2 linked regions of the Homo sapiens genome follow. The protein of the gene in region 2 interacts with the protein of the main gene of each other region in a pairwise test. Each region holds a gene or a part of one and is shown on either strand. Other genes may lie near its edges.

Region 1 (3,825 bases), on a different chromosome or scaffold from region 2:
AACATTGATTTGTTCTTCTCTGTTTCTCCACCTTAATCAGTATCTGACACAAGTAGATATCCAACAACTAGTAGCTAAAAATATTCAAACGTGAATACCGTAGACTATACAAGTATAGAGAAAAACTGCCTTTCAGGAACTCAGCTGTAACTTAACTCCTACCACCTAGAGTTCTATGATTATCATGATAGGAAAGTAGCTTTTAATCTAATCTACAAAGGATTTCATGAGAAGGAAAATTCTGAAAAATAGTTTTTAATGAGAATCTTATGTGAGGATCTTTCACACACACACACACACACACACACACACACACACACACACACACACATCTATCTATCCATCTATCATCTGTCTATCTATCTAATCCTCACTGAAGCCCCTTAAGGCAGGTATCATCTGCATTACCACAGATAAATACACGTGGACTCTGTGAGATTGTAACTTGAATAATGCCATGTGTACTAAAGGTACCAGATCCAGGAACTCAGATCTACCCGTCCCCAACAGCCAGGCAGCCAGGCATTTCCCTATTATGGTACCATGGGATATTGTCAGACATACACACACACACACACACACACACACACACACACACACACACATATATACATACATATAGTTATGACCATGGGCTAGGCTCTTATCCAGAGCTAAGCACTATGGATACAGTGATGATTAAATAAGATAGACACTGTCTTTAGTCTCATAGTGCTTACAGACTGAAAGGGATCTTGTAGAGCTAAAATTATGCTTGCTGCCACAAAAGTGGTATGTTTTCATTTTTTCATTCACTCAAGAAATATCTATTGACTACATACTATGTGTCATGCTTTGTGTTAAGAGCAAGGAATAAAATGGTGAGTAAAACCAGACCTGATTCCTGCCTTCGTGGGGCTTACAGTCTAATGAGGAAGTTATGAAATAGTCACATGCAAACATGGTGCTGTGAGATCCTACAAATAGGGGAAGCAAGCTTAATTAAATTAGGAGATTCTTGCTTGAGGAAGTACCACTTAATCTGAGATTTAAAGGATAACTAGGAGTTAAAAAGACAATGAGGAGAGAGAAGAACACTCCAGGTAATTCAAACAGCATGTGAGAAGATCCTATTGTAGAAGGAAAGATGCGTGCAGGAAGTCTTTGAAAGAGGCCAGTGTGGCTGGAGAGCTGGAAATAAGAAGCATCCTGGTGTCAGAGGAGCCTGAGAGGTGGGCAAGAGCAGGACTATAGGGCATTGTATGAAATCTGACATATGTGCTAAGTCAAAATCCGGCAGTGTGCTCTCCCAGTTGGTCTCTAGGTTAATGCTCATGCTAATGTAGCAACTCCAAGCTAGGGACAAAAAACCTTGGAGCAGAGAGGCTCATGGGTACCGGCAAGCTGGAAGAAGACTAGATAATCACTAGGATCTGCACTGAAACCAAGGCTCTGCTGCTTAACCGCCCCAGAGAGTCGTCAAGTGAAGAATGGCCTTTCTGAACCTTCACTTGCAGAGTGCTAATGTAGTAGTGGAACAGAATGCTGTTTTGGGAGCCCATGAAATTAGATTTACATTCTTCATCTGTTATCTCTACGTTTCTCAGGTTATAAAATGGGAACAAAGATATTTCCTTTTAAGTATTGTTAAAGATAATTAAATAAGATGATGTATTAAAGGACTTGACCTAGCGCTTAGCTCATAGCAGGTATTCAATAAATAATAGCCATTATTTTTCTTTATCTGTTAAATGGAGACAGTAATAGCACAGATTAAGTTGCTGAGTTATGAAGATCTGATTAGATTATGCATGTGAAAGCAATAGGCCGGGCCTCCTCTGCGTAATCTTATTTCTAATTTTAAGAGCCAGGAACCCACTTTTTTGGAGCCTGATGTTCTAATATTCCTTCCTTACGAAAGCCAGGTCATTGCTTTTTTCATCTGCCTGATGCACTGTAAGAGCCTTGTGTGTTCTTTCAAAAGCGATCTCTCATTTTTCTCGTTTTGGGTTTTTAGGTGTCTTTACATTTGGCAATCTCCGTCCTACAGAGGGCTGGAAAAGCCCTGCGGGAGACGGCATATCCACCACCCGCTGCTGGGTCGGCCCTGCAGCTGTGTGCACCCGAGAACTGCCAAAGAAGCTGGGTCTTGGCGCGGCGGGACGGGCCAATCAGAAGAAGTTTGGCCCTCTGCAGTTTCCGTCCGCTCACTAGGAGGCGCTGCGGCAGCGACGGCGGCGTCGGCGGCGGCCGGGGCTGTCGCGGGTTGGGGCGGTTGGGCTGGCAGCTGAGGCTCGTGGCCATGGAGTGGGGTTCTGAGTCGGCTGCTGTGAGGCGGCACCGCGTCGGAGTAGAGCGTCGAGAGGGAGCGGCGGCCGCGCCACCGCCGGAGAGGGAGGCCCGAGCGCAGGAGCCTCTGGTGGATGGGTGCAGCGGCGGCGGGAGGACGCGGAAGAGGAGCCCCGGGGGTAGCGGCGGCGCGAGCAGGGGCGCGGGGACCGGGCTGTCTGAGGTGCGCGCCGCGCTGGGGCTCGCGCTCTACCTGATCGCGCTGCGGACGCTGGTGCAGCTCTCGCTGCAGCAGCTCGTGCTACGCGGGGCCGCTGGACACCGCGGGGAGTTCGACGCGCTCCAAGCCAGGTACCGGCCGCTCCCTCCTGGCACGGCCCGCGCGTCCGTTTGCGGCTCCTGCGCAGGCTCCGGGGCACCGCACCTGTGTGCACCCGCCCCTGCCGGACCGCTGGGACTCGCTGACCCCTCCCAGGCTGCACGTGGGGTGGGGTGACCTTGCTTGTCCTTCTTCTGGGGTCTGAATTGCCGGGACTTGGGGCTTGCCTGTCCCCGGTTAAGCTCGTGGTGCAGATTGGGGTTGCCAGGTAGATTGAACCTGCTTTCCACTGTCTGCCCTTCGTGCAGATGGTTGGTTGTGAGTCGTCTCCCCATATTCTGGAACAGCTTCCCCTTTTTACCTTGCTTAGCCCTTCTGCTTTCCAGATGGAAATTTGTGTACCTAGACTGTTGTATAAATTCGCTTTGGGGGCGGGGAGTTTTGGAAGGCGCTAGTGCACTGTTCTAACTTTCTGAGGGTTACAGCCCCCACATCTGAAGGCTATAGAAACTCTTTCTGGAACACCGCCCAGTCAAAATTTGGTATGCAGTCTGATAAATTCTCAGATCCCTGCAGTTTATCTTTAGGCCCCTTGGATTAGTGACTGTGTAAGGTTTGACTTTTTTTTTTTTTTTTAAGACCTTTAAGAATGCTAGGAAAGGTGATTAAGTCAAAGATATTGTAACCCAGGTGTGTCAAAGCTCATGAAGTGTTAAGCTGGCGTCAAGTTTTCAACAGCTACTGTGTTCTAAAAAGTTTTTGCTAGAATGCAAAGTGTTGCAAGCTTATTAAGGACTTTCTGAAACGTCTCCCACCCCCACTTCCAGCTTTCCCCACTTGGAATGCAGTGAAAAGACAAAAACAGTTTTGTTTTCATTAGGGGTACAGTTGGTTTTGGCCTGAATTGAAGTTATTAGACCTTGGGTGTATGCTAGGAGGGCTAGGTCCATCAAAAGTTTCCCCCGCCCGCCTTATTTAACCTCTTGACTTGATTATTTTTGCTCATTGGTTTCTGCTACTTAAAGTCATTAACCCAGAATCTGTAACGTTCAGGAGTATGCACAGTGAAGTTATATTCTATCCTGCTTAGTCTTTAGCTTTTTTTGTTTGTTTTCTGAGACAGGGCCTGGCTCTGTCGCCCAGGCTGGAGTGCAGTGGCTCCATCTCGGGTCTGTAGCCTCCACCTCCCAGGTTCAAGCAGTCCTCCCACCTCAGCCTCTTGAGTAGCTGGGACTACA
Region 2 (3,600 bases):
AAAGAAAAGAAGCAAGCTCTCAAACATGGAAGTTCTTTTCTTCAGAATAGTTTTATTAGTTTGCATACAGTTTGTCAACACTCAACTTTTTTCTCTCCTGACACACAAATCCATTCAGCTAGAGCTTTCTTCTCCCCATATTTCACAGATCGTGACATGGTATGGATCTGCAGGCATCTCTGACTTTCGAAGCCTGAGGTTACTGCCACTACCTGTTGCCATGGCACGTTTAAGATTCCGCACTTTGGACACAAATTTCATAAGCTCCACCTCGAGTTCCATTAAGGTATTGAATGCACAGTCTTTGTTGGGGGAAGCATTTCTTTTTTTCTTTAATGGAGAGTGAAGTTGGCCGCCTCGAAGGCCAGGAGGACTCTGCTCCTGTCAGGAAAGATACTCAAGGTCAGTAATATTGTGAACTTTGTTGGTTTTGACACAGTTCGTGTTACAACAGCAGACTTGAGTAGTTGCAAGAAGACCATACTGCCCACAAAGCTGAAGATATTCGCACCCTCCCTGGCCCTTTACGGGAAGGGTTTGCCGATCCCTGCTCTCATCAGTTTGGGCACAGGATTATGAAGTGCTGGGTCTTTCTAGGGGAGAACGCACTTTCTCTCCCCTTCCTTTTCTACCTGAAAGAGTTGTTTGTGGTCACTTTGAGGACCAGCTCAAACTACCTTACATCTTTATCTCTTCAGCACAAGTCTCATATTTTGTTGGGATAATGATATCATTTCCATTTAGCTCAGGATTTTGTAGTAAGTCAAACACTAGCAAGAATTTAAAAAACAGGGGCTAGTGAATCTGGCCCTGTGAATAATTTTGACTTTCTGAAACACACCATAAGTTCTTGAATCTATCCTACATTTGAAAAAATCCATCTAACCAGAAAATCTGTGAGCCAGTAAGCAGAGGTCACTTTCCACTCTTTGTCCCAGTATCTGTGGATCTGGGGACAATTGTCTTCACTAAGGATACATCAGGAAGTGAATTTGCCAGCTTTGCCCAGGACCATGAGGTCGGTTCATTATACCCAACGGTGCCGTCTAGACTCACTAGAACATCCGTTTCCCTGAGACTCCTGAGATTGAATCAATATGGTGTAAAAAAAATGGAGCCATCCTTACCTTATTCTTCTCACTGTCTCTTTGACACTGCAGTATCACAAACGGCACAACAACAAAAAGAAGCCAGAGCCATTTGCTCCCAAGCCAGCCTTGGGTGTGCTCTGGTAGATTCTGCCGAATCCGAAAGTGCTCTCCGTATTGCACCTTCCCCTGGGGTTCGCTAGTTTTCTGTCTCAGAGAAGAGAACATAAAGGCATAGCTGCAGGTGAGGCACAGAAGCAGGACCAGGGACGATTTCAGCGTCCACATGGTGAGCAGAGATGGGGAAGGGAGTTGCTCATGACGGGTTTGCTTGCCCTCGCAACTGGGAGACTGGGCACCTGGTGCCAGGCCCTTGGTGATGTCACAGAGGCCCTGAGCTGAGGCCACTCTGGCCATTGTGATGATTTCAGGACAGAGGTTACAGGTCACAGGGGTTGCCCGGGAGGAGGACTCAAAGGGAGATGGGGGCATTTCCAGCAGGCAGTCAGAGAGAGAGGATGGGCACGACGGGGTGCCAATTCCCTGCCAGGGGACTCTTTCCAACCCTGGAGCTTTGCTGGGAGAGGCCATCATGTTTTTGTTTTTCATTTGTTTGATCCAGACATTGTGATGAGCAGAGGGAGATGCCATGTGCCCCGTGGAGCTGAGTTAAACGGGAGAGAAAGATATTAAACCACAGGCTACCTACAAATTTGGAGCCACCTATGTGGCTCAAACTAAACAAACAAAAAATTTGTTTTTGTTTTTTTTTGGGGACGGAATTTTGCTCTTGTTGCCCAGACTGGAGTGCAATGATCTTAGCTCACCGCAACCTCCGCCTCCCAGTTCAAGCCATTCTCCTGCCTCAGCCTCCTGAGTAGCTGCGATTACAGGCATCCACCATCACGCTTGGCTAATTTTGTATTTTTAGTAGAGACAGGGTATCTCCATGTTGGTCAGGCTGGTCTCTAACTTCCGACCTTAGGTGATCCACCTGCCTCGGCCTCCTAAAGTGTTGGGATTACGGGCATGAGCCACTGCGCCCGGCCCACCTATGTGTTTTGTTTGGCCTACATTGTTTTTAAAAATTGTCAGTACTTAAATATTGGGGGGCATTTCACTTTAAAACTCCACATTCTGGCTTCCTTTGAAAATATGGGAGGTCCAGAAACAATGAGTGCACACCCTCATGGAACCAGTCTCTCTGCTGCAGCCAAGTGAAACCGTCCTTTCGGTGGCCATATTCCCTCCACAGTCCCCACCACTCACTATTACCTCACACCATCATTGATCGTAGCAGTGTGTGCCCACCCTGGGTTAAGAGTATACTTTGGGCTGGGTGTGGTGGCTCACACCTGTAGTCCCAGCACTTTGGGAGGCCAAGGCAGGTGGGTCACCTGAGGTCAGGAGCTGGAGAATAGCCTGGCCAACATGGTGAAACCCCATGTCTACTAAACAAAAATTAGCCCGGCATGGTGGCATAGGCCTGTAGGCCCAGCTAGTTGGGAAGCTGAGGCAGGAGAATCACTTGGACCTGGGAGGCAGAGGTTGCAGTGAGCTGAGATCGCACCACTGCACTCTAGCCTGGGCAACAGAGTGAGACTCCATCTCAGGAAGAAAAAAAAAAAGAGAGAGAGTATACTTTGATTAAAATTGTGATAAGAACAGGAAGCTTTAGAGACTAGCATAAGGGGACTGCTCTAAACTAGGTTATGCAGGAAGCAGGAAGAGTGTCCAGAAAAAGATGGTTGAGTAGAGCAGGGGAGATGATTAAGAGTTGGTGGGTAAAATGGGAAGGGGCTGAATCCCCCAAGTAAAAAGGAACAGCTAGCTTGACAACTGAGGCCAAGGCTGGGAATAAACCTAGGACTCCATAGTATACTCGAAACCATGTGTTCTTTAAAATGACATGAAACAAGAAATCCTGGGTGCTGGAACGCACGGCTTGTACTTGTTCCCCTGGGTCATCTGTAGAGCTATCTTCCTGAGGAAGGCTCTGATTTGCAGATTTACTCCCGAGGAGCAGAACTTTATGCTGCACAGGAAATAATCAAAGTTCAGCTGGGCACCTTCGCTGTGCCTTAAACTACTGATCTCTGTGGAGTGACAAAGTAGTTCTGCAAGACTATGGCCAGGGGCAGTGGCTCATGCCTGTAATCCCAGCACTTTGGGAGGCCAAGGCATGCAGATCACCTGAGGTCAAAGAGTTTGAGGCCAGCCTGACCAACATGGTGAAACCTTGTCTCCACTGAAAATAAAAACAAATTAGCCAGGTGTTTTGGTGCACACCTGTAATCTCAGCTACTCTGGAGCTGAGGCAGGAGAATCGCTTGAATCCAGGAGGCGGTGGTTGCAGTGAGCTGAGGTGGTGCCACTGCACTCCAGCCTGGGCAACAGAGTGAGACTCTCTCAAAAAAAAAAAAACCAAAAAATAGTTCTGCAAGACTACTCTAGAAAACCGAAAGGGGAAAACGCTGTTGGGCTGTGCTGCACAGCTTCTTCCTCCATGAGC

What was found. The genes of interacting proteins can lie anywhere in the genome.
Region 1: the proteins of FAM209A (region 2) and ERMP1 interact in binary tests that used the Homo sapiens proteins (3 or more experiments, as listed by UniProt).

Annotation. Positions count from the first base shown.
Region 1 is NC_000009.12:5,831,484-5,835,308, reverse strand, and holds the start of ERMP1 (endoplasmic reticulum metallopeptidase 1), read left to right. Parts: upstream 1-2,191; 5' UTR 2,192-2,281; coding exon 2,282-2,619; intron 2,620-3,825. UniProt on the Homo sapiens protein: Within the ovary, required for the organization of somatic cells and oocytes into discrete follicular structures.
Region 2 is NC_000020.11:56,522,585-56,526,184, reverse strand, and holds FAM209A (protein FAM209A precursor), read right to left. Parts: upstream 1,442-3,600; 5' UTR 1,377-1,441; coding exon 1,128-1,376; intron 403-1,127; exon of another isoform or gene 382-402; coding exon 115-381; 3' UTR 33-114; downstream 1-32. UniProt on the Homo sapiens protein: May play a role in sperm acrosome biogenesis.